Regions from separate parts of the Homo sapiens genome. Here region 2 is linked to region 1. Evidence: fine-mapped expression QTL. A gene starts in region 1. The other region holds a variant in brackets. All regions are shown on one strand. Distances are from middle to middle. Region 1 holds the start of XPO5 (exportin 5). Region 2 overlaps XPO5 (exportin 5).

Evidence for each region.
Region 2: its variant is fine-mapped to the expression of XPO5 in testis (GTEx, PIP above 0.99).

Annotation. Positions count from the first base shown.
Region 1 is chr6:43,572,774-43,586,206 of GRCh38, reverse strand. It overlaps XPO5 (exportin 5), which reads left to right and starts at 10,169. Exons shown (of 32, transcript NM_020750.3): 1 at 10,169-10,447; 2 at 12,606-12,727. The coding sequence starts at 10,343. POLH (DNA polymerase eta) reads right to left here and starts at 10,022. Exons shown (of 11, transcript NM_006502.3): 1 at 9,767-10,022; 2 at 3,751-3,891; 3 at 3,066-3,200. The coding sequence starts at 3,887. RefSeq lists enhancers at 7,924-8,424, 9,753-10,002 and a silencer at 10,023-10,222.
Region 2 is chr6:43,539,479-43,556,465 of GRCh38, reverse strand. It overlaps XPO5 (exportin 5), which reads left to right. Exons shown (of 32, transcript NM_020750.3): 13 at 502-630; 14 at 2,963-3,093; 15 at 5,013-5,168; 16 at 6,532-6,573; 17 at 6,888-6,977; 18 at 8,006-8,205; 19 at 8,759-8,858; 20 at 9,714-9,895. LOC124901522 (U7 small nuclear RNA) reads left to right here and starts at 14,230; the gene lies at 14,230-14,291. It also overlaps a transcript of POLR1C not described here, the pseudogene RPS2P29 and LOC124900224. RefSeq lists an enhancer at 8,298-9,497 and a silencer at 14,112-14,161. The variant A/T (reference allele first, on the strand shown) is at 9,107.

The DNA of each region.
Region 1 (13,433 bases):
ACATCCGGCCAATATACAGATATTTGCTTTCCTTTGGCTTGGACCTGCTTTGTAGTGTCCAGTTCTTTGTTCCTATTGACTTTATATTTACCATAAAAATGAAAACATCGGTACCTCTTCACCATGACACCCATAAAAACTAATATAATTATTGTTCTAAAACACTCTCAAATTAGAGAATTAGAGAAATACTTGACTTTTTTTTTTTTTAAATCATTATTTGAACTAGGAAGAGGATAGGCCTCAAAGAAAATAAAGAGCAAGATCGGGCGCAGCAGTTCACACCTGTAATCCCAGCACTTTGGGAGGCAGAGGTGGGTGGATCACCTGAGGTCAGGAGTTCGAGACCAGCCTGACCAACATGGAGAAACCCCATTTCTACTAAAAATATAAAATTAGCCAGCACGGTGGCACATGACTGTAATCCCAGCTACTCGGGAGGCTGAGGCAGGAGAATCACTTGAATCCAAGAGATGGAGGTTGTGGTGAGCCGAGATTGCACCATTGCACCCTAGCCTGGGCAACAAGAGTGAAACTCCGTCCCCCACCCACAAAAAAAAAAAAAAAAAGAAAAGAAAGAGCAATATACTCATACACACAGCCAGAAAAGGATACTTATAATATTGTGAAATATATATTCGGTCTTCATCCCAGTTTCCTGGCATACAACTCCAAAAATCCTTGGAATCACCCAAGTTTTGTCTTTTTGTATGCTAATGTTAACTAATAGCTTCAGGATAGGGCAGGTCACCAAAAAGACCACGGCATAATTAGAGGGTTGGGACTTTTGGCCCCACCCCCTCAACTTCTGGGGAGGGGAGAGGAAGAGAGATACTGCAGGTCAAGTTGATTACCCATAGCCAATGGTTTAATCAGTCATGAGTACATAACGGAGCCTCCCTAAAAACCCAAGAGGACAGGGTCCGGAGAGGTTCCAAATAGCTGTAATAGTAGAGATTCCTGGAGGGTGGCTCACCCAGGGAGGGCATGAAAGCTCCGCACCCCTTCTCACATGCCTTGCTCTATATATCTCTTCATCTTCATCTTCTTTTTGACAGGATCTCACTGTTGCCCAGGCTGCATGCAGTGGTTTGATCATGACTCTCTGGAACCACAATCTCCTGGGCTCAAGCGACCCTCCCACCTCAGCTTCCTGAGTAGCTGGAACTAGAGCTGCACAACACCATGTCTAGCTAAATTTTTTTGTTTTTGTTTTTGTTTTAATTTTGGTAGAGACGAGGTCTTACTATGTTGCCCAGGCTGGTCTCAAACTTCTGAGCTCAAGCAATCCTCCTGTCTCAGCCTCCCAAAGTGCTAGGATTACAGGCGTGAGCCACCATGCCCAACCTATCTGTATCCTTCGTAATATCCCTTATAATAAACATAAGTAAGTGTTCTCCTGAGTTCTGTGAGTCGCTTCAGCAAATTAATCAAATCCAAAGAGGGGGTTGCAGGAACCCCAACTTAAAGCCAGCTGTTCAGACGTTCTAAAGGCCTGGACTTGTGATGGAAAGGAAGGAGGGGGTGTTCTTGTGGTATTGAGCCCTCAACATGTGGAATCTGATGCCATCTCCAGGTAGACAGTGTTGGAATTGAGTGCGAGGACATGCAGCTGGTGTCTGCTGATTGGTGTGTGGGGAAATACTTCCACACCTTTGGTCACAGATGTCTTCTGTGTTGATTGTTCTTGTGGTGTGAGAGGAGAGGAAAACCATAGTTTGAGTTTTTCTAAAACAATACTCTATTTCAGTGCTTCCTCACAGCCTCTTGAGCAAATCACTGCAAGGTATTTTTAAGAGTATTTGGAAAACTTAATCTTCAGTCAAGTCTATCTTCTTTTCTAGCAATAATTCCAATGTGGGTCTGTATGCCACTCTACCTTTAGACTTCTAATTCATAGAATTAGAATTAGAATTCAGAAGTATGTCAGGTCCTAAGTCAAAGCATGATTCCTATACCACAACACATAGTATAGTGTACCTTGAGAACATAGATACTAGAATCTTAAAAAACAGATGTGAATCCTCAGTCTTTCACTTAGCTGTCTGAACTTTTCTCTTTCTTGAGACAGGGTCTCACTCTGTCACCCAGACCGGAGTGCAGTGGTGTGATCTGGGCCCACTGCAACCTCTGCCTCCCAGGCTCAAGCAATCCTCTCAACTCAGCTTCCTGAGTAGCCGGGACTGCAAGTGTGTGCCACCATGCCTGGCTAATTTTTGTATTTTCTGTTAGAGATGGGGTTTCCCCATGTTGCCCAGGCTGGTCCCTATGTTGCCCAGGCTGGTGTCCTGGACTCAAGTGATCTGCCCGCCTCAGCCTCCCTAAATGCTAGGATTACAGGCATGAGCCACCATCCCCAGCCTAACTTAAATTATTTAACTTCTCTGAACTTGATTCCTTATCTGTGAAGGGGGAGTAATATTAGTACCTACCTTATAACAATGTCAGATTTAATAGAGATATTGCCTATAGAGAGCTTAACACTGTGCCTGGCATGTGATAATATGTTTAATACATATTAGCTGTTAGGATTAAAGGCTGGGGTTTGTGCCTACCTCTGACTTAGCTATGCTGATTCATATCCCCCATTCCAAGGTGAAACTTCTAATATTTGCGGAGAGATAGCTTAATCTAAAAACAGAGAAATCTCCCTTGATATTGTTCAATTATAGCAACTAATTCCTGATATTGTACTACAATGTCAGTTTGACTCAGCCTTTCCTGGAAAAATTCTCAGTTTCACAGTCAATTTTTCAAATACTTTAGATTTTTGGATGGAGAACATGGGAATTGGTATTAAGTCTGAATTTAACAACCAATTTTGAACAATTAAGGAACTGAATAGATATCAAAGGCAGCAACTCTTATATGGTATAATGGTTTTGAACTGTCCCCAAAACACAATATTAAAATCTGTTTTTCATTTCACAGAGACAAGATGGCTAACCAAAAAGAATTTTTTCCGGTGTTATTTACATGGAACAAATTCAAAACACCAGTTCCTAGCCTCATGGAGTATTATTTTCGACTCCTTTATGTCTCCTTAAATAATGTTTTTTTCTTACTTGGTGAGGTTAGCTTTCCCACGGGACTCACGAACTTGTGCCAGTAGAAGATCTGGACATAACTTCTTAGCATCATCTGCCCACATACTTCTAGTGACTCCAAATGCACGAGCTTCATAACTCACTGCAATTATTCTAAGGTTAGAAAAAAAAGGAAACAGAAAACATATTATATGATCACAAGCAAAAACAAGTAACATTTAACACAAGTAATCTATAAACATATTAGAAACTTTTTGACCACAGATGCCATCATTCAATCCAAAACAAAGCAGTTCAGAAATCTCAAAAATAGGGCCAGGCACAGCAGCTCATGCTGGCAATTCCTGTACTTTGGGAGGCCAAGGCAGAAGGACTGCTTGAGGCCGGGAGTTCAAGACCTGCTTGGGCAATATAGTGAGCCCTGCCCCCCCAACCAATCCCCATCTCTACCCACCCCCCAAAAAATAAAATCAGCTTGGCATGGTGGGGCGCTCCTGTAGTTCTAACTATTTGGGAGACTGAAGAGGGATGATCACTTGAGCCCAGGTCAAAGCTGCTGTGAGCTGATGGTGCCACTGCGCTCTGGATGGGACAACAGAGAAAGGCCCTGTCACCACCACCACCACCACCACAACAACAAAGGACCTGCCACAGTGCCACTGTGTTACCATTGAATAGTTGTGACAATAACAATGATACATACCCACCACCCTTCCATGATTTGTACTGTACAACTGCACAAGGTTTATTCCTCAAATGAGGATTTTGCCGCTGCTCCACTTGAACAAAAAAACAGTCCATGTCCACGAGAGCAACCACTCGATCCTGTCCAGTAGCCATTTTTCTGTAACACAACATTTTATGGACAGTTAGAAAAACACCTAATCCAAAATGCCAGGGAAAACTGTAATTCCATTCTTTCACTGATGAGTTACCATGAGCATGGGAGCATGGAAACTAACAAGAATGAAATAGGCATTTAAATATACAGGTTGAGTATCCCTTATCTGAAATGGCTGGGATCCAAAGTGCTTGAGATTTTGCATTTTTTTCAAATTTTGCAATATTTGCATTATAATCACCAGTTAAGCATCCGTAATCCAAAAATCCTAAACCTACAATGCTCTAATAAACATTTCCTTTGAATGCTGTGTTGGTGCAAAAAATTTTTTGGATTTTGGAAGATTTCAAATTTCAGATTAGGGATACCCTGAGTGGAAAAAACAGTTTTTAAGATTCTTTCACTCGATCTTGAGAGGAGGTCGCGGCGCCGGAGGCCCTAGAAGGCTCGAAGGCGCCGCGGGCTGGGGTCGGTGGCTTAGGGAGCCCGTCCGGCCATGGTGGCCGCGGGTGGTGGTTGGCGCGGCTGCGCTGCGGCCCGGGGCAGTGCGGAGCCGGGACAGTCGCGGCGCTGACGCCCGCGGGCCCCAGCTGCAGATATGAAGCGGAGCCGCTGCCGCGACCGACCGCAGCCGCCGCCGCCCGACCGCCGGGAGGATGGAGTTCAGCGGGCAGCAGAGCTGTCTCAGTCTTTGCCGCCGCGCCGGCGAGCGCCGCCCGGGAGGCAGCGGCTGGAGGAGCGGACGGGCCCCGCGGGCCCGAGGGCAAGGAGCAGCCGCCTGCCTTGGCCTCCCAAAGTGCCGAGATTGCAGCCTCTGCCCGGCCGCCACCCCGTCTGGGAAGTGAGGAGTGTCTCTGCCTGGCCGCCCATCGTCTGGGATGTGAGGAGCCCCTCTGCCTGGCTGCCCAGTCTGGAAAGTGAGGAGCGTCTCCGCCCGGCCGCCATCCCATCTAGGAAGTGAGGAGCGCCTCTTCCCAGCCGCCATCACATCTAGGAAGTGAGGAGCGTCTCTGCCCGCCCGCCCATCGTCTGAGATGTGGGGAGCGCCTCTGCCCCGCCGCCCCATCTGGGATGTGAGGAGCGCCTCTGCCCTGCCGAGACCCCGTCTGGGAGGTGAGGAGCGTCTCTGCCCGGCTGCCCCGTCTGAGAAGTGAGGAGACCCTCTGCCTGGCAACCACCCCGTCTGAGAAGTGAGGAGCCCCTCCGCCCGGCAGCTGCCCCGTCTGAGAAGTGAGGAGCCTCTCCGCCCGGCAGCCACCCCATCTGGGAAGTGAGGAGCGTCTCCGCCCGGCAGCCACCCCGTCCGGGAGGGAGGTGGGGGGGGGTCAGCCCCCCGCCCGGCCAGCCGCCCCATCCGGGAGGGAGGTGGGGGGGTCAGCCCCCCGCCTGGCCAGCCGTGCCGTCCGGGAGGGAGGTGGGGGGGTCAGCCCTCCGCCCGGCCAGCCGCCCCGTCTGGGAGGTGAGGGGCGCCTCTGCCCGGCCGCCCCTACTGGGAAGTGAGGAGCCCCTCTGCCCGGCCAGCCGCCCAGTCCGGGAGGGAGGTGGGGGGGTCGGCCCCCCGCCCGGCCAGCCGCCCCGTCCGGGAGGGAGGTGGGGGTGTCGGCCCCCCGCCCGGCCAGCCGCCCAGTCCGGGAGGGAGGTGGGGGGGTCAGCCCCCCTGCCCGGCCAGCCGCCCCGTCCGGGAGGTGAGGGGCGCCTCTGCCCGGCCGCCCCTACTGGGAAGTGAGGAGCCCCTCTGCCCGGCCAGCCGCCCCGTCCGGGAGGGAGGTTGGGGGGTCAGCCCCCCGCCCGGCCAGCCGCCCCGTCCGGGAGGTGAGGGGCGCCTCTGCCCGGCCGCCCCTACTGGGAAGTGAGGAGCCCCTCTGCCCGGCCACCACCCCGTCTGGGAGGTGTGCCCAACAGCTCATTGAGAACGGGCCATGATGACAATGGCGGCTTTGTGGAATAGAAAGGCGGGAAAGGTGGGGAAAAGATTGAGAAATCGGATGGTTGCCGTGTCTGTGTAGAAAGAAGTAGACATGGGAGACTTTTCATTTTGTTCTGCACTAAGAAAAATTCCTCTGCCTTGGGATCCTGTTGATCTGTGACCTTACCCCCAACCCTGTGCTCTCTGAAACATGTGCTGTGTCCACTCAGGGTTAAATGGATTAAGGGCGGTGTAAGATGTGCTTTGTTAAACAGATGCTTGAAGGCAGCATGCTCGTTAAGAGTCATCACCAATCCCTGATCTCAAGTAATCAGGGACACAAACACTGCGGAAGGCCGCAGGGTCCTCTGCCTAGGAAAACCAGAGACCTTTGTTCACTTGTTTATCTGCTGACCTTCCCTCCACTATTGTCCCATGACCCTGCCAAATCCCCCTCTGTGAGAAACACCCAAGAATTATCAATAAAAAAATAAATTTAAAAAAAAAAAAAAAAGATTCTTTCACTCAACAACAATCAATAAGGTAGACTTCTGTGACCAAATGTGTGAGGATTTCTCCCCACCAACAAACAAGCAATCAATTCTGCAGCAGACACCAAGTGGGTATCCTCCAATTCGAGTCTGACATTATCTACCTGGAGAAAGCGTCAGATCTCACAGGTTGATGGCTCAGTCCCACAAGACTGCCCCCTACTTCTGATGCCAATCACAAGCCACAGGTTGTTTTACCTGTGCTTCTAACTGACTGGATATAAATTGGGAATCTCATGAGCCCCTCTTTGGGTTCAGTTAATTTGCCAGAGTGGCTCACAGAACTCAGGTAATCAAATTTACTAGTTTATTATAAAGGATATACAGATGAAGAGATACACATGGCAAGGCATGCCCTCCCTGGGAACACCACTCTCCAGGAACTTCCTTTTGCTCCTATCCAGCAGCTCTTCGAACCCTCTCCTCTTGGGCCTTTTATGGAAACTTCATTGGATAGGCATGACTGACATCCGTGTAGAAATGTGACTGGACAAAAAAGATATGATCTAATACTAATAGACTGGGGAAACCCAGCAAGGCCTGTCCAGATTCTTCCTGGCCTCTCTGGGTAGCATTCCTTTCTCCAGGGTATGGGGTAGGAACTCTTCTGAAATGAAAGTCTTATGACCCATAATCAGAAAGGCAGGGGAAGATTAGAGTCCTGCTTTGGGCAGGTGAAAGGAGGGCAGAAGGCCAGAGAGAGATTCTGTTTTCTGAGGCTTGCTTCAAGAGCTCCAACATTATAACGAAAGCTAGGGGAGTTATGAGCTAGGAACCGTGGACAAAAACTAACATACATATATCACAATATCACAGATACTCAACCTGTACTGCTGGCATAAGGATAAATTAGTACAATTTTATGAAGGCAATAGGTATTAAAAGCTTTAAAAATACTTATCCTTAAAAGAACTAACCACAAAATACAAACATAGCCAATTGGCACATAAAAATAGGCTCACCATCATTAGTCATGGGGAAATGGAAATTAAAATGCACATCACCAGGGGAAGAGAACCAATACGGAATCAGTTGACAGACAAATCTCAAGTATAAATTCAGAGAAAAGAGAAGGAGAAAATAATATATAACATCATAGCATTCATGAAAAATGTCAACCTTTTACTCTGAAATACTTTTAGACTTACAGAAAATCGCAAAAATGGTAGAGTTCTCCTACTCCCAGTTTCCTGATGTTAACATCTTACTTAACACAATTACCAAAATTTAAAAATGAACATTGGCATATTATTAACTACATACTTTACTGCCCCCCAATCTGTGGCATTTCCTCGGTTGTTCCTTGTTTTTCATGACCATGACACTTTTTTTTTTTTGAGACAAAGTCTCGCTCTTGTCCCCCCGCCAGGCTGCTTTAAATACTACTGATATTTGACTTCCACAACTATATATACTAACTTAATTGGTATGGGTATGACCTGGGCATGAGTTTTTTGTTGTTGTTGTTGTTTTTGAGTTAGAGTTTCGTTCTCGTTGCGCAGGCTGGAGTGCAATGGCACAGTCTCGGCTCACTGCAACCTACGCCTCCCGGGTTCAAGCGATTCTCCTGCCTCAGCCTCCTGAGTAGCTGGGATTACAGGCGCACGCCACCACGCCCGGCTAATTTTTGTATTTCGAGTAGAGACTGGGTTTCACCATGTTGGCCAGGCTAGTCTCTAACTCCTGACCTTAGGCGATCCACCCACCTCGGCCTCCCAAAGTGCTGGGATTACAGGCGTGAGCCATCGCGCTCGGCCTAGCATGGGGATTTTTTTTTTTCCTAGACAGAGTCTCCGTCTGTCACCCAGGCTGAAGTGCAGTGGTGAGATCTCAGCTCACTGCAACCTCCATCTCCCGGTTTCAAGTGATTCCTCTGCCTCATCCCCATTAGCTGGGACTACAGGCGCGTGCCACCCCGCCCGGCTAATTTTTTGTATTTTTAGTAGAGACGGGGTTTCACCGTGTTAGCCAGGATGGTCTCGATCTCCTGACCTCGTGATCCGCCCGCCTCGGCCTCCCAAAGTGCTGGGATTACAGGCGTGTGCCACCGCGCCAGGCCGGGGATTTTTAAAAGCTCTCCAGGTAATTCCAATATGCAGCAGTTTGGGAGCCAAGACCTAAATAAGACAATCGAAACACCAGCAATCCATGATTTAAATACGAGAAACACAGGTTATACAGTTGAGTGAGCACCCAACTGTATTCTAAAAAAAGTTTTTCAAAAACTAACATTCACCTTGAAAAAAAAAACGTCTTACAACTGCAAAGCAGGAAGGTGAGTGGAAAGAAAAATAATTAAAATCAGAGCAGTCAAAGCATTAATTCCTTATAAATTCCAATCGACCACGCCTAAAACAGGCAGAATGTGATACTTTAAACATTTACAAGTTAAAACTATAACATGCCAGAAGTCCCTCTACTTTGAAGTGGCTTTTCAGTAGTACTGGAACAGACTGAGCCAACAAATAGTATTGTAACACAAAAAAACACAGGCTAAGCACCATATTAGATCCAAATACCAGAAGTGGAGCAAGAATAGGAAGCAGTGATTTATGTTCAGCACACAATTTACTAAGCACACAATCACAAAAACAGACATGCAGACTTTAACAGATAATAAAGCTGTTGAGGTTTTCCGTTTATGTATTTACTGGAGAAAGCAAGAGCTTTATTTATTTATTTTTGAGACGGAGTTTCGCTCTGTCGCCCAGGCTGGAGTGCAAAGGCGCGATCTCGGCTCACTGAACCTCCGCCTCCCGGGTTCAAGCGATTCTCCCACCTCAGCCTCCCGAGTAGCTGGGATTACAGGCGCGCACCGCCACGCCTGTATAAAAATACTAAAAATGCAAACATAATTTTTGTATGTTTAGTAGAAACGGGGTTTCACCATGTTGGTGAGGCTGGTCTCGAACTCCTGACCTCAGGTGATCCGCCCGCCTCCGCCTCCCAAAGTGCTGGGATTACAGGCGTGAGCCACCGCGCCCGGCCAAGAGCTTTATAAAGATGGAAAATGAAGAAGACTTTCTGCCCAAGCCATGCTTTTGGATAAGGATTACACTACTTTGAAACCTTATACATAGCACTTGGCCAATTATCAAAACTGCACAAACCTTCACTGATTGCAATTATTCCCTTTAAACATCTCGAGTTACCCCAATCCGCACAAAACAAGTTTAGTGCCCACCAGGTAATAATACATCCAGGAAAGTAATTCCAAGAGAGAGGTTTAACAACTACAGGGAAAAACATACTTTTTTCTACAAGAAAAATCTTAGAAGACAGTACCAGGGCCTTATCCCTGTTAGCATGATTTATATTTCACGCAACCTTGGCCCAGTCACTGCTACATTATAAAACCAATAGCCAAGGCAACATAGAAAGTCTGAACACAGTGACAGCGAACGGTTCTAAATTTTCTTACCAAGGTAACAAACACCTGGCAAAACTGCCAGCAGCGGTTGCCGAAAATGCTGGGTTCGGTGCCTACTGGAAGGAAAATGGAAGGGCTCCTGAATATCTTTTCGCCTTTCTAGGAGCGGTCCAGTGAGTTTCGAGCGAGATTTATTCCCTGTGACGACGGAGAAACCGAGAAGGGATCGTAAAGGATCCTGCCCGGGCAACCGTCCCCAGCAGGGATCAGACGAGAGCGGCGCGCCCAGCAATGCAGCCGCCAGACTGAGGTCTGACAGCGCGCCCGCTGCGAAGGGCCGTTGACGCGGCTGCGCACCGCGGCCCTTCCGCCTCCCGCCCCGCCCACCTAGGCTCAACCTGCACACGGGAGCCGCCACTTCCGCGGGCGCGTGCGCAGTGGCGGGCCGGGCGCGTGCGCAGCGCCGGCTTCTTCCCAGCGCGAGTTGCTGCTAACGCTCCTCCTCCAGCTTCCCACCCCCGCCGCCCGCCGCGGCCCGGTACCAACGGGTGGTCTCGCCGAGGGAGCTGTCGTGCCTCGTGGTCCCGGGACTGCAGTGGTGTGCGCTCTCGGCGCGTGGCGCTAGGCATGGCGATGGATCAAGTAAACGCGCTGTGCGAGCAGCTGGTGAAAGCGGTGACGGTCATGATGGACCCCAACTCCACCCAGCGCTACCGGCTGGAAGCCCTCAAGGTAGCTGGGGTCCTGGCGTCCTGGGCCGGTCCCGACACCCTCTCCCAGCCCCAGCAGCTCCGGCGCCGCCTGTAACTGGGGTAGTCTCCCGCCCACGCGGCCCCTGGACCTCCTTTCCCAACTCCCCGGGACCTTCCCCTCGCGGCCCTCCGCGCCTCTCCCAAATCGCCGCCTTCTCTACTCGCCGCTCCTGTCCTTTGCCTGGGACACTCCGGTCCCTATGCTGCTTCTCATCTCGCCGCAGCTTCCCACAGCCCTCTCCTCCCCCTTTCCTCGCTTCTGTGCACTCTTGTCCGCAACATGACCCTCGCCCATTTTCATTCCCCAAGCCCGACATCCCCTCGCCTTCCCGAGGCGCACGTGTAGATCCCGCCCCCAACACCAGCTTCGTTCTTTATGGTCTCTCCTGCACTAAACGTTTTCCTGCTGGCCCACTCCCCTGGCCCTGACCGAGCTCCAGCCCCTCTGGTACCCTTATGCTTATATGCTTTAACATCTCGCTAACTTTCGTTTGTGTCTTGGACATTTTCCGGGGAAATTCTCGCACCCCTACTTCTCCCATGTTTTTGAGTGTAATATTTTTAGGCTATTTTGCGCAAAGATAACTTCTACCACTTACTTTGCATTTTAACAAGGGCACTTTGGTTTCCTGAAAGTAGTTTGCGTGAGACCCGAATGCTCTGCTCTTGGGACTGACTTATGTTGCAGTTTGGGGGTGTTAATACAATTCAAGCTTACTTGCCCATAAAACAACGTGTGTGGGCTGTGAGAAATGGCCATTTAGGAGAAAATACTTGTGCTGTACATTTTTAAAGTGATGTTAACTTCAAAAAAGAGAGTGACCACCACTTGGAGGAAATGTTACAATATGTAGATGTCTGCCACAGGGTTTGGAATCAGAAACAATTGGGTTCCATTAGTTTGGTTTTTATTATTAATATTTAAAATAGACACAAAAGTGGAGAGAATACGACAGTGATTCTGCATGTTCCTGTCACCTAAATTCAGCAATCAAAGATTTTACCGCATTTACTTTTTCCACCGCCTATCCTCTCTCCCTGCCTCGAAGGTTTTTAAAAGAAACCCTAGAAATTGTTATTTCACCCCTATGTACGTCAGGGGGATGTCTCTAACAAATAATTTCTTATTCCTTTGTGTCCATTTTTTTCCAACACTAGTAGGGCTACTGTTGGCCGTAGCATGGAAAAAATCTGGAACCATCACGCTGGAAGGAATGTTTATCAGTTCTTTATTCATAATATATATATAATATATACACATAAAATAGAGTGAACACCACTTGGAGGAAATGTTATATATGTGTAACTTTTATATATTTTATATTTTTATTTTTATATTAAATATATATTTTTAAAGCAACTGTGCTTGGAGATCCACATAATATTGATCTAGGTTTTGCAACTTTAAACATATAGCTTAGGTTGGAGTTTCTTTTTGAGTAGGGTCTCACTCTGGTTGTCCAGGCTGGCGTGCAGTGGTGAGATCTCGGCTCACTTCAGCCTTGATTTCTCGAGCTCAAGTGATTCTCCTACCACTTCAGCCTCCTGAGTAGCTGGGATTACAGGCACCTGCCACCATGCCCGGCTAATTTAAAAAAATATTTTTAGTGGGCCGGGCACAGTGGCTCACGCCTGTAATCCCAGCACTTTGGGAGGCCAAGGCAGGTGGGTCACCTGAGGTCAGGAGTTCAAGACCAGCCTGGTCAACATGATGAAACCTTGTTTCTACTAAAAATACAAAAATTAGCTGGGTGTGGTGGCGTGCACTTGTAGTCCCAGCTACATGGGCTCAGGAGGCTGAGGCAGGAGAACTGCTTGAACCTGGGAAGCAGAGGTTGCAGTGAGCCGAGATCATGCCATTGCATTCCAGCCTGGGCGACAGAGTGAGACTCCGTCTCAAAAAAAAAAAAAAAAAATATATATATATATATATATTTAATAGAGATGGGGTTTCGCCATGTTGCCTAGGCTAGTCTCAGACTCCTAGACTCAAGTAGTCCACCCATCTCAGCCTCCCAGAGTGCTGGGACAGGTGTGAGCCACCGCACCCGGCCCTGGTTGGAGTTTCTTAAGATGAAATTCTTTTAGTCCCTATTCTCTCAGCCCTCGAAAGGAAACACTAACTTTTCTTCTTTCAGTTTTGTGAGGAGTTTAAAGAAAAGTGTCCTATCTGTGTCCCCTGTGGCTTGAGGTTGGCTGAGAAAACACAAGTTGCCATCGTCAGACATTTTGGCCTTCAGATCCTGGAACACGTTGTCAAGTAAGGAGCTCTTGGACATTACCACTGAAGTCTGAGAGAACAGATCTTTATATCTTATATAACCTATAGAGATGCTGTTTAGGTGAGTAGAGAAGAGCAATCTCCAAGAAGAGAGGAATGATCCCCTAGATGTTATCAGAACCTCACAGGAGCTCTCATTCAAGATTTAACCTTTCTTTTCTTCAGTTTCTTCATCCATGTAAAGTGTGTGGTACATATTACCCATTCAACAAATATTACCTGCCATTTAGCCAATACTTACTGAGCTCTGACTATATGTCATTAGCCCTCGAAGCCTTTTTAGAGTAATGCAATGTATAGGTCAATGAATCTCTGATTAGGCACTGTGGCTTTCTTTTTTCTCTCTGTCTTTCTGAGTTTGTGTGCCTTCTCTGGGTGGTACATCCAAAGCAGGATTGTATGAGAATAACTGAAAACCCATCCTAACTTGATTGTCCTACCCTCAACACCTATCAGAAGAGGTAGCCTTTAAGACTTAGCCATAGTTTTTCCAGAATTGTTTTGTAAGCCAGCACAGAAAATGACTGATGTCAAAACTGCATTTTCTGAAAAGCAAGTACATTGTTGCAGTTGACCTAGATGTATATTCACTTTTGGCCCATCAATAAAATCATGAGGCAAAGCTGACGTGTGGTACAAATCTTGTGCGGATTCCAGTTAATGGACCACTGCATATATAAAACCT
Region 2 (16,987 bases), 32 kb after region 1:
CAATCTTCACCTCCCTGGGCTCAGCTGATCCTCCTACCTCACTCTCCCAAGTTACTGGGACTATAGGAGCATGCCACCACACCTGGCTACTTTTTGTATTTTTTGGTAGAGACTGGGTCTCACTGTATTGCCCAAACTGGTTTTGAACTCTTGGGCACAAGCAGTCTGCCCACCTTGGCCTCCTAAAGTGCTAGGATTTCAGGCGTGAGCTACTGTGCCCAATCCTGATTTCCTTTTAATTCAAACAGAAATGGGAGACTAAGTTTAGTTTGCCACTTACAGGATCTAGCTGGTAATACAGTTTCCAGAGATCATTTATTTTCAAAAACTTCTGGATTCGTTAATAAAGTTTTATTGAGTGATTATTACATGCAAAGCACAAGTCTGCAAAACAGTTCCTTTGAATGCTTTTCCCCTAGGGTGGTAAATTAATAAACATTAAGTACTTATTTTATACCAGTTATTGATTCCTGTCCTTCCCTTGGCATTTTCTCTTGGCAGCCTCCCGAGCACAACAAGGAGAGGTGATGAGGTTGGCATGTCGTTTGGATCCCAAAACTAGCTTCCAGATGGCTGGGGAGTGGCTAAAGTATCAACTATCAACTTTTCTTGATGCTGGTTCTGTGAATTGTAAGTTTTTTTCATTACTGAATGTTAGTGAAATGTTAGGACAGTATCAAAACTATATATAGGAAATGAGCCTGAGCTATACACACATCAGAACGATATACTTATACTATTCAAAAATAGCTTTGCTCATCCTGGAGAGGGAGCGTTTTCATTGGCTGACACAAAGAAAGCAGATGACACATTTTAAATTTGTTTTAAATTAGGGTAAAACCATGTCCTTATCAGTTTTGCCATCATTTTCCATTTCTAACAGAATCAACCAATTATTTATTGTTGATTTTATTTGCTTCACTTCAGGCACCAGCTTAACAAATTTCATGCGTAGACCTAACTTTAAAACTTTTCAGCCAAAGTCTTGCATAGCACTATTCCTGAAATCAGAAAGGATCTCCTGTTAGACATAACAGGAATAATACAGGGACTTCTCATATCACTCAGCCACTCCAAAGCTTTTGTGAAATTATACTTTACATAAATTCAGAATAATCCCCCTCTACCGAATGCCTCAGCCAGTTAACTTCTCTGTACTCCAAATGTTTTGTCTCTCATCTTAATGCATGCTATATGTGTGTGACAGTATTAATAAAGCAAAAAGGCTGGATGCAGTGACTCACGCTTGTAATCCCAGCACTTTGGGAGCCCAAGGCGGGCAGATCACCTGAGGTCGAGAGTTTGACACCAGCCTGACCACCTTGGAGAAACCCTGTCTCTACTAAAAACACAAAAAATTAGCTGCCGTGGTGGCGCATGCCTGTGATCCCAGCTACTTGGGAGGCTGAGGTAGGAGAATCGCTTGAACCCAGGAGGTGTAGGTTGCGGTTAGCCGAGATGGCGCCATTGTACTCCAGCCTGGGCAACGAGAGCAAAACTCCATCTCAAAAAAAAAAAAAAAAAAAAGTGAATTAACTAGTGCACGTCACTGCTTTAGAAAAGCACCATACTACTGGCTGACATTTGAGGGACTTAACATTCAGCTTTATTTACAATTGACTCTAAATTCTCTGATATTTGGTAACTTGAAAGGTTGAGGAAGCCCAAATGTGTTGCACTAAGATGAAACTAGTAAATAGGACTACGCTGTATGTAAGCAAGAAAAGCAATTGGTAAATCTTAGGCCAGGCAGGGTGGCTCACGCCTGTAATCCTAGCACTTCAGGAGGCCGAGGCTGGGGATCACCTGAGGTCAGGAGTTCAAGACCAGCCTGGCCAACATGGCAAAACCCTGTCTCTACTAAAAACAAAAAATTAGCCAGGCGTGGTGGTGGGCCCCTTTAATCCTAGCTACTCAGGAGGCTGAGGCAGGAGAATCACTTGAACCCAGGAGGTGGAGGTTTCAGTGAGCCAAGATCGTGCCACTGCACTCCAGCCTGGGCAAAGAGCGGGACTCCATCTCAAAAAAGAAAAAAAAAAAAAAGAAAAGAAAAGCGGCTGGGCACAGTGGCTCACGCCTGTAATCCCAGCAGTTTGGGAGGCTGAGGTGGGTGGATCACAAGGTCAGGAGTTTAAGACCAGCCTGGCCAAGATGGTGAAACCTCGTCTCTACTAAAAAAAAAAAATACAAAAATTAGCCGGGCATGGTGGCAGGTGGCTGTAATCCCAGCTACTTGGGAGGCTGAGGCGGAGAATTGCTTCAACCTGGGAGGCTAATGTTGCAGTGAGCCGAGATCTCGCCACTGCCCTCCAGCCTGGGTGACAGAGGAGACTCCATCTCAAACAAACAAAAAAAGAAAAGCAGTTGGTAAATCTTTTTGCTTGTGCCTTGCTATTTGAGTGCTGTGCTGTGGTAATAGTTGTAAACTTGAAGGATGGCACCCTTCTCTAGACATAGCCCTTAAGGCTGTCATGAGGCTATTGGATGTGAAGCAGTATTTTGTATATTACATTGTTTCCTTATTGGGAAGATTCTTTATGGTCTCAATTTTAATTATTTAGATTCTCATGGAAAAGATTATAAAGGGGGAGGAGGGGAGAAACTAATTCATGTTTATCAAGTGCCTACTAATGGGCCAGGCAATGTTTTTGATGTTCACCTGCGTATTCTCATTCATTACTCAAAATGGTTTTACTACAAGGCTCATAGAGGTGAATTCAGACCGCTCATTGTTAGAGGAGGAGGAGGCATGGTAGGAACCTTCACCTACCTCATTGCTTTCAGCACACATCATCTTTTCTTTGCCCCAGCTGAGAGGGGTTAGATTACCCTGCTCCTTCAATCATGAAATTCTCAGGTGTTCTCTAAGGCTCCATTGTCTCTCTGTGTCTTCTGCGATCTTTCAATGCTGATAATTGTGTGTGTGTGTGTGTGTGTGTATGTGTGTGTGTGTGTTTTAAAGCTTGTTCTGCAGTTGGAACTGGAGAAGGAAGCCTCTGTTCCGTCTTCTCACCTTCATTCGTGCAGTGGGAAGCCATGACTCTTTTTTTGGAAAGTGTTATCACCCAGATGTTTCGAACACTAAATAGAGAAGTAAGTAATTATTTCCCATGCTGACTGCATGATTATTTTGACCTTTTTCTTTTCTTTTCTCTTTCTATTTTGGGACGCTATATCTCTCTGTTGCTCAGGCTGAAATGCAGTGGCACAATCATAGCTCTCTGTAACCTCCAACTCCTGGGCTCAAGCAATCCTCCTACCTCAGGCTCCTGAGGATCTAGAACTACAGTTACTTGCCACCACACCTGGCTAATTTATAATAAAAATGGAGTCTGTGTTGCCCAGGCTGATCTCAAACTCCTGGCCTCAAGCGACCCTCCTGCCTTGGCCTCCCAAAGTGCTGAGATTGCGGGCATGACCCACTATGCCTGGCCAGTAAACTGGTAGTAGAATAGGAAAATCTATGGATGTACATCTTACAGAAGAGGAAACAGATTTAGAGAGGCTAAATAGCATACTCAAGTTCAAACAGCTAATAAATGGCAAAATGGGGACCAAAACTCAGGTCTTTCTAACTCTAAGCACTACCACATTTAGTATACATTTTAAGTACCACACTGCTTTAGAATACTGTACGCCACCAGTATAGTGGCCACCTGTAGGTCTGAAAAGGAGGGTATGCACAGAGAGCCTCAACTGTATCAGTAAAATCATATTTCTTAAAGTAGGCAGATGAGGATTTACTAAATTATAGAGAAATAGACAAAAGATATAATCCAATAATGTATAGAGGAGAACCTAAAGTAGCTGATAAGCCGGGCGCAGTAGCTCATGCCTGTAATCGCAGCACTTTGGGAGGCCAAGGCTGGCTGATCACTTGAGTTCAGGAGTTCCAGACCACCCTGGCCAACATGGTGAAACCTTGTCTCTACTAAAAACACAAAAATTAACTGGGCATGCTGGTGCATGTCTGTAATCCCAGCTACTTGGGAGGCTGAGGTACAGGAATCGCTTGAACCCAGGAGGCAGAGGCTGCAGTGAGCCAAAATCACGCCAGTGCACTCCAGCCTGTGTGACAGAGTGGGATTCTGTCTTAAAAAAAAAGAAAAGGGTGGGGCGCAGTGGCTCAGGCCTGTAATCCTAGCACGTGGAGGCTAAGGTGGGTGGATCACCTGAGGTCAGGAGCTCAGGACCAGCCTGGTCAACATGGCGAAACCCTGTCTCTACTAAAAATACAAAAATTAGCCGGGCATGGTCATGGGTGCCTGTAATCCCAGCTACTCAGGAGGCTGAGGCAGGAGAATCACTTGAACCCAGGAGGTGGAGGTTGCAGTGAGCTGAGATCGTGCCATTGCACTGGGCAACCAAGAGTGATATATAAATAAAGTAGCTGATAAATATGAAAAACATTCAGCCTCTTGATCAGTTGAAGAAATACAAAATTTAAGAGGTTTTAGGGAATAATACACTGCTGAGAAGATGGTAAGAAGGGCACGCACAGCTGAGTACGGTGGTTCACACTTGTAATCCCAACACTTTGGGAGGCCAAGATGGGAGGAATGCTTGAACCCAGGAGTTTGAGACCAGCCTGGACAATATAGTGAGACCTCATCTCTACTAAAAATTTAAAAAATTAGCCAGGCATGGTGGTGCGTGCCAGTAGTCCCACCTACTTGGGAGGCTGAGGCCGTAGGATCACTTGAAACCAGGAGTTTGAGACCAGCCTGGTCGACATAACAACACTTCTACAACATCTCTACAAAAATTTTAGAAAGTATCCAGGCATGGTGGTGCCCGCCTGTAGTCCTAGCTACTCAGGAGGCTAAGGCAGGAGGATCCCTTGAGCTCAAGAGTTTGAGGTTACAGTGAGTGATGATTGTGCCACTGTGCACTCCAGCCTAGGTGACAGAATGAGACCCTGTCTCTTTAAAAGATGAAAATAAAATGTAGCCAAAATGGTTATTTCTAAGTGGAGGCAGCCATTGTCAACCTGTTTTATGTCTTTGTTACAGGAAATTCCTGTTAATGATGGAATAGAGCTATTGCAGATGGTTCTGAACTTTGATACCAAGGATCCCCTCATCCTGTCCTGCGTCCTTACTAATGTCTCTGCACTCTTTCCATTTGTCACCTACAGACCAGAGTTCCTGCCCCAGGTCTTCTCTAAGGTATAAAGCCCATCTCCTTTGTAAATTTTATTTTGACATTTCTAAGTTAATTTTTATTTATTTTATTTTTTTGGAGACAGGATCTTGCTACATTGCCCAGGCTGGACTCAAATTACTAGTCTCAAGGGATCCTCACACCTCACCCTTCTGAGTAGCTGAGACTACAAGCATGCACAACCATGCCTGGCCTAGGCTAATTATTTTTGTAACTATTTTTAAAATTATGTGAGGCAAACTAATAAACACAGCTATTTATTCATTTATTAAATATCTACTCAGTACTTACTGTGGATCAGGTACCATGCTAGTGCCTCACTCTTTAGGAACACTCTGGGAAGAAAGGCACAAAAACAGTTAATGTTACCTATATGGCATTGCAATGAAGACTTGTATAAAGGAGAGTATTAGAGTGTGCTGTCGGGCAGGGAGGGGATTTATGAGAGGAAGGAACACTTTCCAGGTTTCCAGTTCAGTTGACTAGGTGGGTGATAGAGCCACTCCCTGAGTCAGAATACCAGATCACAAAGGAGAACGGGACTAAAGAAGAGAAAGCATGAGTATTTTGGAATACTGTGTTTGAAGAATATGTAGAACATCTTTATGGAGACATCTCACAATAAATTGGCTATTTGAGGTTGAAGATCTAGACTCTAGAAAGTAATGAGATAAAATTAAAGCATCATCATCATAGTAGTCCCACGACTAAAAGTGAAGTCTTACTGAAGTGATTATGTATGTAGAGTTAGGAGACATGTGAGTCAAGCGAGGAACCTAGTGAATCACCATCATTGGAGGAGTGGAGAAAAAAATGAGAAGCCCCCACAGAAGGAAAAAGAGCCAGAGAAATGAAGAAAATGTTGTGTCACAAGACCAGTAGGACTTCAGAAAAGTGGGCTCATTTGTTGCAAATTATTTGAGTTGGAGAATGCCCAGTGAGTTTCTTGACTACACTCTTGTCTGAGTTTAATTCCATAATAGTGGCCAAGTAAGCAGCCATATTTCATTGGAATGAGGAGTAAATGGGAAATAATGAAATGGAATAGAAGGGATAGACCATACAACTTTTGATAAAAGAAGAGAGAGGCGTTTCCATAGCCAAGTGCTTGGGTGATGGCATGAATTGTTCTGGGATCCTATTGTAAAATGTTTTGATGGTAAAATTGTGACTCCGATGACTCTTGTAGAGGTTATCTGAGAAAATGGACAGTATGAATAAGCTCATGCCCGTAGTCCCAGCTACTCAGAAGGCTAAAGCAGGAGAATCAGTTGAGCCCAGGAATTCAAGTCTAGTCTGGGCAACATAGCAAGATCTCATCTCTAAAACAAATAAACATGAGTGACCTTTTTTCCTCCTCTCCCTTAGCTATTTTCATCTGTCACTTTTGAAACTGTTGAAGAAAGTAAGGTAAGACCATTAATTAAACCAATAGATTCTAACTTCTTGAGTACAAATGTATGAATACCTGATACTCAGTTTATATTTTTATATAAATGGGAGGGGGTAGTAAGGGTGGTAGATTATCATATATGTTGTTTTGCCACTATAGGGCATACAAGAAACATGGATTCTTGGTGGCTATAAATGTTACTCCATTATACTCTTAGGGTTGTGAAAAATCATTGTGAATTTGCCCCTGACTGAGATATTCACATGAGTCTATGCAGCACCTGTATATTATATTAAAAGCAGCTCCGAGTTTGTTGAATGTCTCTTTTCAGGCCCCCAGAACCCGGGCAGTGAGGAATGTGAGGAGGCATGCTTGTTCCTCCATCATCAAGATGTGTCGTGACTACCCCCAGCTTGTGCTGGTAAGCTGCTGGACCCTGGCTGAAGTAGCCAAGTTTGGTTACATTTGTGTGTAAATCCAGCTTTCAGTGTACCTCACATAAAGAAAAAACTAGAAACTATAGCTTTGCATCATATAAGCATCCTTGGCCGGGCATGGTGGCTCACACCTGTAATCCCAACACTTTGGGAGACTGAGGTGGGTAGATCACCTGAGGCCAGGGGTTCGGGACCAGCCTGGACAACATGGTGAAGTCCGGTCTCTACTAAAAGTACAAAAAAATTAGCTGGGCATGGTGGTGCATGCCTGTAATCCCAGCTAGTCAGGAGGCTGAGGCAGGAGAATCACTTGAACTCAGGAGGCGGAGGTTGCAGTGAGCCAAGATCACGCCATTGCTCCAGCCTGGGCAACGAGCGAAACTCCATCTCAAAAATAAATAAATAAACATTCTTGAATTGGTGTTTTCTTAGTATACTTAGTAGTATAGTTAGAAATGTGATGGCAAATGTAATCTCTCTTCAAAATACAAATAGTTCTCTGCCATATAGATTACTAAGTTTACCCCTATAATTCTACAACTCTTTACTATGTGATGATCTTAATTACTACTGCCAAATGATGTGCCTGATCTTGAGAAAAGCAGATGCAAATCACAACCCTTTTTGGGGCATGGGGTTATAAGAAATTTAACATTACTCCAGATTACAAATTATCCAGAAATTTCTTCTCTGAATGCACAGCAGTTATCTCCATATATATATAGATATACATATATATCTATATATATATATAAAACAAGCTGATCTTTTCACAGTTGTAGTATGGGAAAGTGCAGTTATCCAAATACTCAAGACAAGAGCTATCTTCCGCCTAAATTGCCTTGCTTATTTAGGCAAAATAAAGACATATAACAGAATTACCAAATAATAACCTTATAGGCCTGACTTTCCTGGGACTGCTTTGGTTTTCTTCTTTCTTCCTTGAGTAAGCCACCTCTCCTTGAAAATCAGACCTTTACCACCTCTGGCTTTTTTTCTTTTTGATCTGTAGCCCAATTTTGACATGCTTTATAACCATGTGAAGCAACTCCTCTCCAATGAGCTACTCCTGACACAAATGGAGAAGTGTGCCCTCATGGAAGCCCTGGTTCTCATTAGCAACCAATTTAAGAACTACGAGCGTCAGAAGGTGTTCCTAGAGGAGCTGATGGCACCAGTGGCCAGCATCTGGCTTTCTCAAGACATGCACAGGTAAAGGAGATCCCTTGCCCTGACTCTTACTATACTCAAGCACCCATTTTGGTTTAAGAGCTAGGCCCAGGGTGGGGTAGGGGTTAAGGATATTGAAGTGTGATGGCATTATCCATGATATCTGAAGTTCTCTAAAAGCAGTCTTTTGTAATTTAATCTCTGGTTCAATTAGATTGTGGGTGGGGAGGGCACAGAGTGAGACTCCTGTGGTGTCTGCATTGCAGCACCAGCACATTTAGAAAAATGAGAACAGCTAGGAAGGGCCATACAACCACACAGACACTTATCTGTGCTCACACAGTAGAGAAATTATTTTCTTTATATTTTGAAGATTATATTCTTGTTTAATTCTTAAATTGTTACTAATAATATTTGGGAGTGGGAAGGGAAATTTAAACCTTCAAATGACAACTGACAATTAGTATGATTATACTCCTCTCACTATAAAAACTGCTCTTAAGGGCCAAATAATGATAGCCTGTTAACTCCTGTGGAAGAAACTGTCCTTGTTTAAAGTCATGATGTAACTTGTTTTTCCCCCTCCAACCTTCAGAGTGCTGTCAGATGTTGATGCTTTCATTGCGTATGTGGGTACAGATCAGAAGAGCTGTGACCCAGGCCTGGAGGATCCGTGTGGCTTAAACCGTGCACGAGTAAGACTTTCCTGGGAATGGGAAGTGGCATTGGCCATGGGTAGGAGTAGGGTGTTGTCTTTTGTCAAGTTTCTCATAGATTTGTTTTTTCTATACTGGTGAGAAACGTGGGAGTCTCCACTTCCCTAAGCTTCTCCTTTCTTTTCTTCTTTAGTCTTGAATTCTTGAGTTAGTTCCCACAGCAGAGCAGATGGTCTTTTCTATGAAGTCATTATTTTGGCTTTAAGGATCTCTAAATAGCTCTGAAG[A/T]CTGAAGGTGTAATGAGGAAGTAGGTCAGAACTTGGTCAGCAGGGTGAGTCCTCCCTGCCATTGCTCTCTGGCATGTAAAGTCTTAAGTGATGGCTTAACTTGCAAACCTGAGATTTTTCAGTGCTTTGCTATTTAAATAAGCATTGTTCCTGGCTCCATTATGGCACAAGTCCCATTAATTAACCTGGCAAGTAGTAGGTTGATTCAGAGTACCGTGAGGGGGGATTAGGACACTAGCTGTCAAGGCCCAATAAGGGTCAACTCAAAGAAGATGAAGTGATGGCATTTTAAACACTTTGTTTTGGATCGTATCTAAGCCACCTTCTCATCAGGGTCCTGTGGGTGGGTCACTGCAGCTCCTAGAAAGACAGCTTACTGCAAGGGAAGTTTCCAGAGCCTACCACTGGCCCTGAAAATGGCAGTGAGAGGATCCCTCTTGGACTTCACCTTAAAGGAAGGGATGGGGGATTGCCGGGGAGCAGAGGATTATTTCATTCTCTCTGGCCTCTGTGTCACTTTTGCCAGAACCTTGAATATATCTAACAGTATTTGGTCTTTTTTTTTTTTTCCTTTTAATATTTATCTGTCATTCTTATTTTTCTATAGATGAGCTTTTGTGTATACAGCATTCTGGGTGTGGTGAAACGAACTTGCTGGCCCACTGACCTAGAAGAGGCCAAAGCTGGGGGATTTGTGGTGGGTTATACATCCAGTGGAAATCCAATCTTCCGTAACCCCTGCACAGAGCAGATTCTGAAACTTCTTGACAATTTGCTTGCGCTTATAAGGTGAGTCAGAATAATGGCTTTTCTCTGTTGTTTTCTACTTTACCTTAAAAATTTCAAAAGTTTAGTCTGTTTACATGTCTTCATATCTTAGTGGTATTAATGAGGGATTGATTTAAGTCTTATTTCTTTCTAGAGGGTGTCTCAGTTTTAAAAAAAATAACATCAGCTCTCACTTGCATAAATCTTAATTTCCATGTGAACCCAAGGGGATAATCCCAAAAGGGCTTTTCCCATTTTGAGCCTCCTCTTTGTTGTTCTTCCATTTCTTTATACTTCATCCCTATTTTTACTTGTAAGTTTTATTTGGTCTAAATTTTTTAGTAAAGGAATTGCTCATTGGGAGCAGGGCAGTTGCCTTCTATAATGATGCTTGTCTAGGTGGTATTCATATGAGCTAATCTGAATTTATCAATACTGAGTCTGAGCTCAGATGAACCAAACAACCGCTGGCTGAACATGCTAAACAAAGGAATTATAAATTTTTCATCTGAGTTTGCTAGATCCTTGGTTCTCAAAGCTGAGTCCTAAGACCAGTAGCATTAGCATCACCTGAGAGCTTATTTCAAAGGCAGAATCAAGGCCCCACCCCAGACATACTAAATCAGAATCTGCATTTTAACTAGATGCCCAGTGGTTTATATACACATTAAACATTCAGAATCACTGTTTTAGATCACATGAGTTAATATATTCAAGTGGAAGTAGGCCAGTATAGGCTTATCAGTTACTAGATATAGATATTTGATGACTCAGGGATGGTCTCTAAATGAAAAGATAGGTTTTTTTATATAATTCAGTTATTGGCCAAAGAGTGCTTTTTGTATCTCACAGGATTGGTTTTTTTTTTGTTTGTTTGTTTTTTTGAGACAGAGTCTCACTTTGTCACCCAGGCTGGGAGTGCAGTGGTGCAATCTTGGCTCACTGCAACCTCCGCCTCCCAGGCTTAAGCGATTCTTCTGCCTCAGCCACCCAAGTAGCTGGGACTACAGGTGTGCACCACCACTCCTGGCTAATTTTTGTATTTTTAGTAGAGACAGGGCTTCGCCATGTTAGCCAGGCTGGTCTCGAACTCCTGGCCGCAAGTGATCAGTCCACCTCGGCCTCCCAAAGTGCTGGGACTCCAGGAGTGAGCCACCACACCTGGCCTCTCACAGGATGTTTAAATTACATTGTTAGAGCTCTGTTTCAGTACTTTTTGGCCCCTTCTCCAAGGAGTAAAAGCAGTCTCAACGGGGCAAACCAAATTATTCATGTCGCAGTGAAACTCTCCTGGGAATAGACACCCAAGACCTGAAGCCTGAGAACCAAAGATTTTAAGTTAATGTTGACAAATTGGAGGGCTGGAGTGTCTGATAAAGTTGTCATTGTGGACATGTCTGTGGAAATAGACAATATTTTGGCGGGGTGTGGTGGCTCACACCTGTAATCCCAGCACTTTGGGAGGCCAAGGTGGGTCAATCACTTGAGGTCAGGAGTTTCAGACCAGCCTGGCCAACATGATGAAACCCTGTCTCTACTAAAAATACAAAAATTAGCTGGGCATGGTGGCACATGCCTGTAATCCCAGCTACTCGAGAGGCTGAGGCAGGAGAATCGCTTGAACCCGGGAGGCGGAGATTGCAGTGAGCTAAGATCACGCCACTGCACTCCAGCCTGGGCGACAGAGTGAGACTTCCATCTCAAAATAAATAAATAAATAAATAATATTTTCTTTTGATTTCTAAAGGAGGAAAGAGATCTCTGAAAAGAAGTAGGACTTGTACTGAGAGGGTTAAACATTTAGTCAAGAAGAGGCTTATTTCTATCGTGATGTTTTTATTAATAGAGATGGGGTTTTGCCATGTTGCCCAGGCTGGTCTCGGACAGCTGAGCCTGCTTCAGTCTCCCAAAGTGCTAGCATTACAAGTGTGAACCACCACACCCAGCCCCATAGTGATGTTTTTTAAAACCACAAGGTTCTTCTGCAGCTAGAGAAACGTGAAAGTGATGGAAATCATAGGGCAAGAAGCTAATCACCTAGACCTTTTTAGGCCTGTGGCCAGAATCTATGTGGCCAACCCAGACGTGGAAACAGGGTTCATTTCTGGTTGACTCTAGAGGCCACAAGACAACAGTATGATTATCTTTTTTTATATAATTTTCTTTTTTTAAAAAAGTATAATCTCTTTTCAATTTCTAGTCACCTTCCTATCAATCAGTAGAGGAAGATTCTCATGTGTTCACTATGTCTTTCTCCAGTTTTTTCCTCTATAAATTTACTACTCCTATTTTCTATAGAAAGACAATGGAAAGTGTATAATTGCTGTCGGTAGATAAGTAGGTCTTGAATTTATTTTGCAAACAAGACCTGTTCTGTCTATCCTTTCATTTAGGAGGCTAACAGCAGACTCAGCTTGACTTTAAGGACTCTATTTTCTTAGTCTTCAGATGGTTATCATTTTGATACTTTTCTAAGAGTTCAGTGCTTTTAGAGAATTCCAAAAATCAATCAAAAGGCATTTTGAAAAATGCCTAGCATGTAATGATAGAGTAGATTGCTTGAATAGTGTGTAGCTGGAGCTATTAAGAGTTTTGCTTTTTTAGTAAATTTTATTGGCTGGGCGCGGTAGCTCATGCCTATAATCCCAGCACTGTGAGAGGCCAAGGCGCATGGATCACTTAAGGTCAACAGTTCGAGACTAGCCCAATAAACATGGTGAAACCCCACCTCTACTAAAAATACAAAAATTAGCCAGGCATGGTGGCGGGCGCCTGTAATCCCAGCTACTCGGGAGGCTGAGGCAGGAGAATTGCTTGAACCTGGGAGGTGGAGGTTGCAGTGAGCCAAGATCACAGGGAAGAGTCTTCCCTGTCCCTGGGCAACAGGGAAGACTCCGTCTCAAAAAAGAAAAAAAAAATTAAATAAATTTTATCTTGAAGTGTAACATTTATGTAGAAAAGGGCTTAACTTGTGAGTGTGTGTAGATGAATTTTCACAAAGTGGACACATTCATGTAATCAGCACTCAGATCAAGAAGCAACTTTACCTAATACCTCTTTTCAGTAATTACCTGCCCCTCAAAGATAACTACTATTCTGATTTGTATTTATTTATTTATTTACTTACTTACTTACTTTTGAGGCACGATCTTATCCTGTCGCCCAGGTTGGGGTGCAGTGTTGCGATCACGGCTCACTGCAGCCTCGACCTCATGGGCTCAAGCAGTCCTCCCACCTCAGCCTCCTGAGTAGCTAGGACTACAGCCATGAGCAGCCATGCCCAGCTAATTTTTAACTTTTTGGTAGAGATAGGTTCTCTCTATGTTGCTGAGGCTAGTCTTGAACTCATGGGCTCAAGAGATCCTCCCAAAGTGCTGGGATAACAGATGTGAGCCACCTCACCCAGCCCACTATTCTGACTTTTAACATTTTGTCCAGGTTTTTGAACTTTGTGAAAATGAAATCAGAAGTATGCACCTTTTGGTGTCTGCCTTCCTTTCGCTCAATATTTTGTTTCTGAGGTTCATCCATGTTACTGCATGAATGTACTTGTGTTTTTTTTGTTCTCCTTGCTTGTATGATACTTCATTGTGTGAATATGCTGTAACTATTCAGCCTTGATGGACCTTTGGGTGATATTTTAATATTACATATCATGCTGCTGTTGACATTCTTATGTCAAATACGTTTTGTGAACATATATATATAATTTCTGTTGGATACACACATAGGAGTAGAATTCCTAGCTTATAAGAAATGTGTATTTTCTGTTTTTATAGATGCAACCTGCTTTTTAAAGTGGTTATACTAATTTATATTCCCACCAGTTATATGCTGGAGTTGGGAGTTTTAAATTACTATTTTTTGGCTGGGCACAGTGGCTCACGCCTGTAATCCAAGCACTTTGGGAGGCCGAAGCAGGTGAATCACTTGAGGTCATGAGTTTGAGACCAGCCTGGCCAACATGGTGAAACCCCGTCTCTACTCAAAATACCACCACCACCAACAAAAAAAATTAGCTGGGCATGGTGGCAGGTGCCTGTAATCCCAGCTACTCAGGAGGCTGAGGTAGGAGAATCGCTTGAACTTGGGAGGCGGAGGTTGCAGTGAGCTGAGATCATGTTACCGTACTCCAGCCTGGGCAACAGGGTAAGACTCCATCTCAAAAAAAAAATTGAAAAATAAATAAATTACTATTTTTTTAGTAGAGAAAAGTTTGCTTTAAGAATGTAGCAAGGTATTCATAGCACCTCCTGCGTCAAATAATCTGATAATAGAAGGTGTTGAAGCTGTGCTGTCCAGCATGGAAGCCACTTGCCACATGAAACTATTGAGCACTTGAAGTATTACTAGTCAAGTGTTACAGTACTTTCAGAATTGGTCTGGTAGGCTTTCCAGTTTTCTCTGGAAAGCTCCTTAGAGAAAAAAAATAAAAATTAAAAAATAAAAATGACTAGCCTGAATTGAGATGAACTGTAAGTATAAAATACACACTAGATTTCTAAAATCGGCCGGGTGCGGTGGCTCATGCATGTAATCCTAGCACTTTGGGAGGCTAAGGCCTTAGGCAGATCACTTGAGGTCAAGAGTTCAAGACCAGTGTGGCCAACATGGTGAAACCCCATCTCTACTAAAAATACAGAAATTAGCCAGGCGTGGTGGTGTGCATGCTTGTAACCCCAGCTACTCAAAAGGTTGATGCAAGAGAATCACTCGAACCCAGGAGATGGAGGTTACAGTGAGCTAAGATCGTGCCACTGCACTCCAGCCTGGGAGAAAGAATGAGACTCTATCTCAAAAAAGAAAAAAAGAAGTATTGGATTACTACAGTACTTACAAAATGAAGTACTGATAATTACTACACTGTGGATCAACCTTCAAAACATTATGCTAAGTGAAAGAAGCCAGACACAAAAGGCCATATGTTGTATGATTTCATTTTTATGAAATATCTAGAGACAGAAAGTACATTGGCGATTGCCTCAGGTTGGAGAGGAGAAGAAAGTGTAGATCAACTGCTACTGCTTAATGGGCCTGGCAGTTATTTTGGGGGCCATGGAAACGTTTTGGAACCAGGTAGAGGTTACTTATGCAACCCTTTGAAAGTATTAAATACCACTGAATTGTGAACTTTAAAATGGTTAGGTTTTGGTGGGGATGTTTTTTGTTAGTTTTTTAAAGTTTTGTGGGTACACAGTACATACATATATTTATGGGGTACATAAGATGTTTTGACACAGGCATGCAATGCATAATAATAATCACATCAATTAAAATGGGGTATCCATCCCCTCAAGCATTTATCCTTTGTGTTACAAACAATCCAGTTATAGTCAACTGCAGTTATGCTTTTTAAATGTACAATCAAAATTATTATTGACTATAGTCACCCTATTGTGCTAGGAAATACTAGATCTTATTCATTCTTTGTGGGTTTTTTGTACCCATTAACAATCCCTACCTTACCCCTAACCCACCACTACCCTCCCCAGCCCCTCTGCTAACCATCCTTACACTCTGTATGTCCATGAGTCGAATTGTTTAAATTTTTAGATTCCACAAAGAGTGAGAACATGTGATGTGTCTTTCTGTGCCTGGCTTATTTCATTTAGCATAATGACCTCCAGTGCTATCCATATTGTTGCAAATGACAAGATCTCTTTTTTTTTTTATGGCTGAATAGTACTCCTAAAGTGGTTAGTTTTATGTTATGTGAATTATGCCTCAATTTTTTAAAATCTTAATAAAAATAAAGCTGGTTCTTTGAAAATACTAGTGATAACATCAGTAAATTCAAAAGCTTAAGAAAAATGGGGCTGGGCATGTTGGCTCATGCCTGTAATCTCAGCACTTTGGGAGGCCACAGCAGGAACATTGCTGGAGACCAGCCTGGGCAACGTAGCAAGACCCCATATCGATTTTTTAATTTATTTTTTTTGAAACGGAGTGTCACTCTTGTTGCCCAGGCTGGCATGCAAAGGCATGATCTCGGCTCACTTCAACCTCTACCTCCCAGGTTCAAGCGCTTCTCCTGTCTCAGCCTCCTGAGTAGCTGGGATTACAGGTGTGTGCCACCATGCCTGGCTAATTTTGTTTATTTATTTATTTATTTTGAGACGGAGTCTTGCTCTGTCGTCCAGGCTGGAGTGCAGTGGCGCCATCTCGGCTCACTGCAAGCTCTGCCTCCCAGGTTCACGGCATTCTCCTGCTTCAGCCTCCCAAGTAGCTGGGACTACAGGTGCCCGCCACCTCGCCTGGCTAATTTTTTGTAATTTTAGTAGAGACAGGGTTTCACCGTATTAGCCAGGATGATCTTGATCTCCTGACCTCGTGATCCGCCCGGCCTGGCTAATTTTGTATCTTCAGTAGAGACAGGGTTTCACCATGTTTGCCAGCCTGGTCTTGAACTCCTGACCTCAGGTGATCCCCCCTCCTTGGCCTCTCAAAGTACTGGGGTTACAGGCGTGCGCCACCATGCCCAGCTAATTTTGTATCTTCAGTAGAGACAGGGTTTCATCATGTTGGCCAGGCTGGTTCTCAAACTCCTGATCTCAGGTGATCCGCCCATCTTGGCCTCCCAAAGTATTGGGATTATAGGCGTGAGCCACTGTGCCCAGCCCCGTCTTCTATTTTTAAAAATAAAATATTTAAAAATGGATAATTTCCAGGGAAAATGTAACTTATTCTAACTCAACAAGATAGAAAACCTAAAGAGATATAACTTCATATTAATTATATTGGTAGTAGTTAAATTAGACCAAAAAACTCCAGGCCTAAATGATTTTACATGGGAGTTCTCCCAGACCTTCAAGGAACAGATAATTTATCTCTTAGACAAACTATTCCCAAGAATAGAAAAATGTAGCTTCTTCTCCGAGAAAACACCAAATGGCGGATGACGCCGGTGCAGTGGGGGGGCCTGGAGGCCCTGGTGGCCCTGGGATGGGGAACCGCGGTGGCTTCCGCAGAGGTTTCGCCAGTGGCATCCGGGGCCGGGGTCGCAGCCGTGGACCGGGCCGGGGCTGAGGCCGCGGAGCTCGCGGAGGCAAGGCCAAAGATAAGGAGTGGATGCCCGTCACCAAGCTGGGCCGCTTGGTCAAGGACATGAAGATC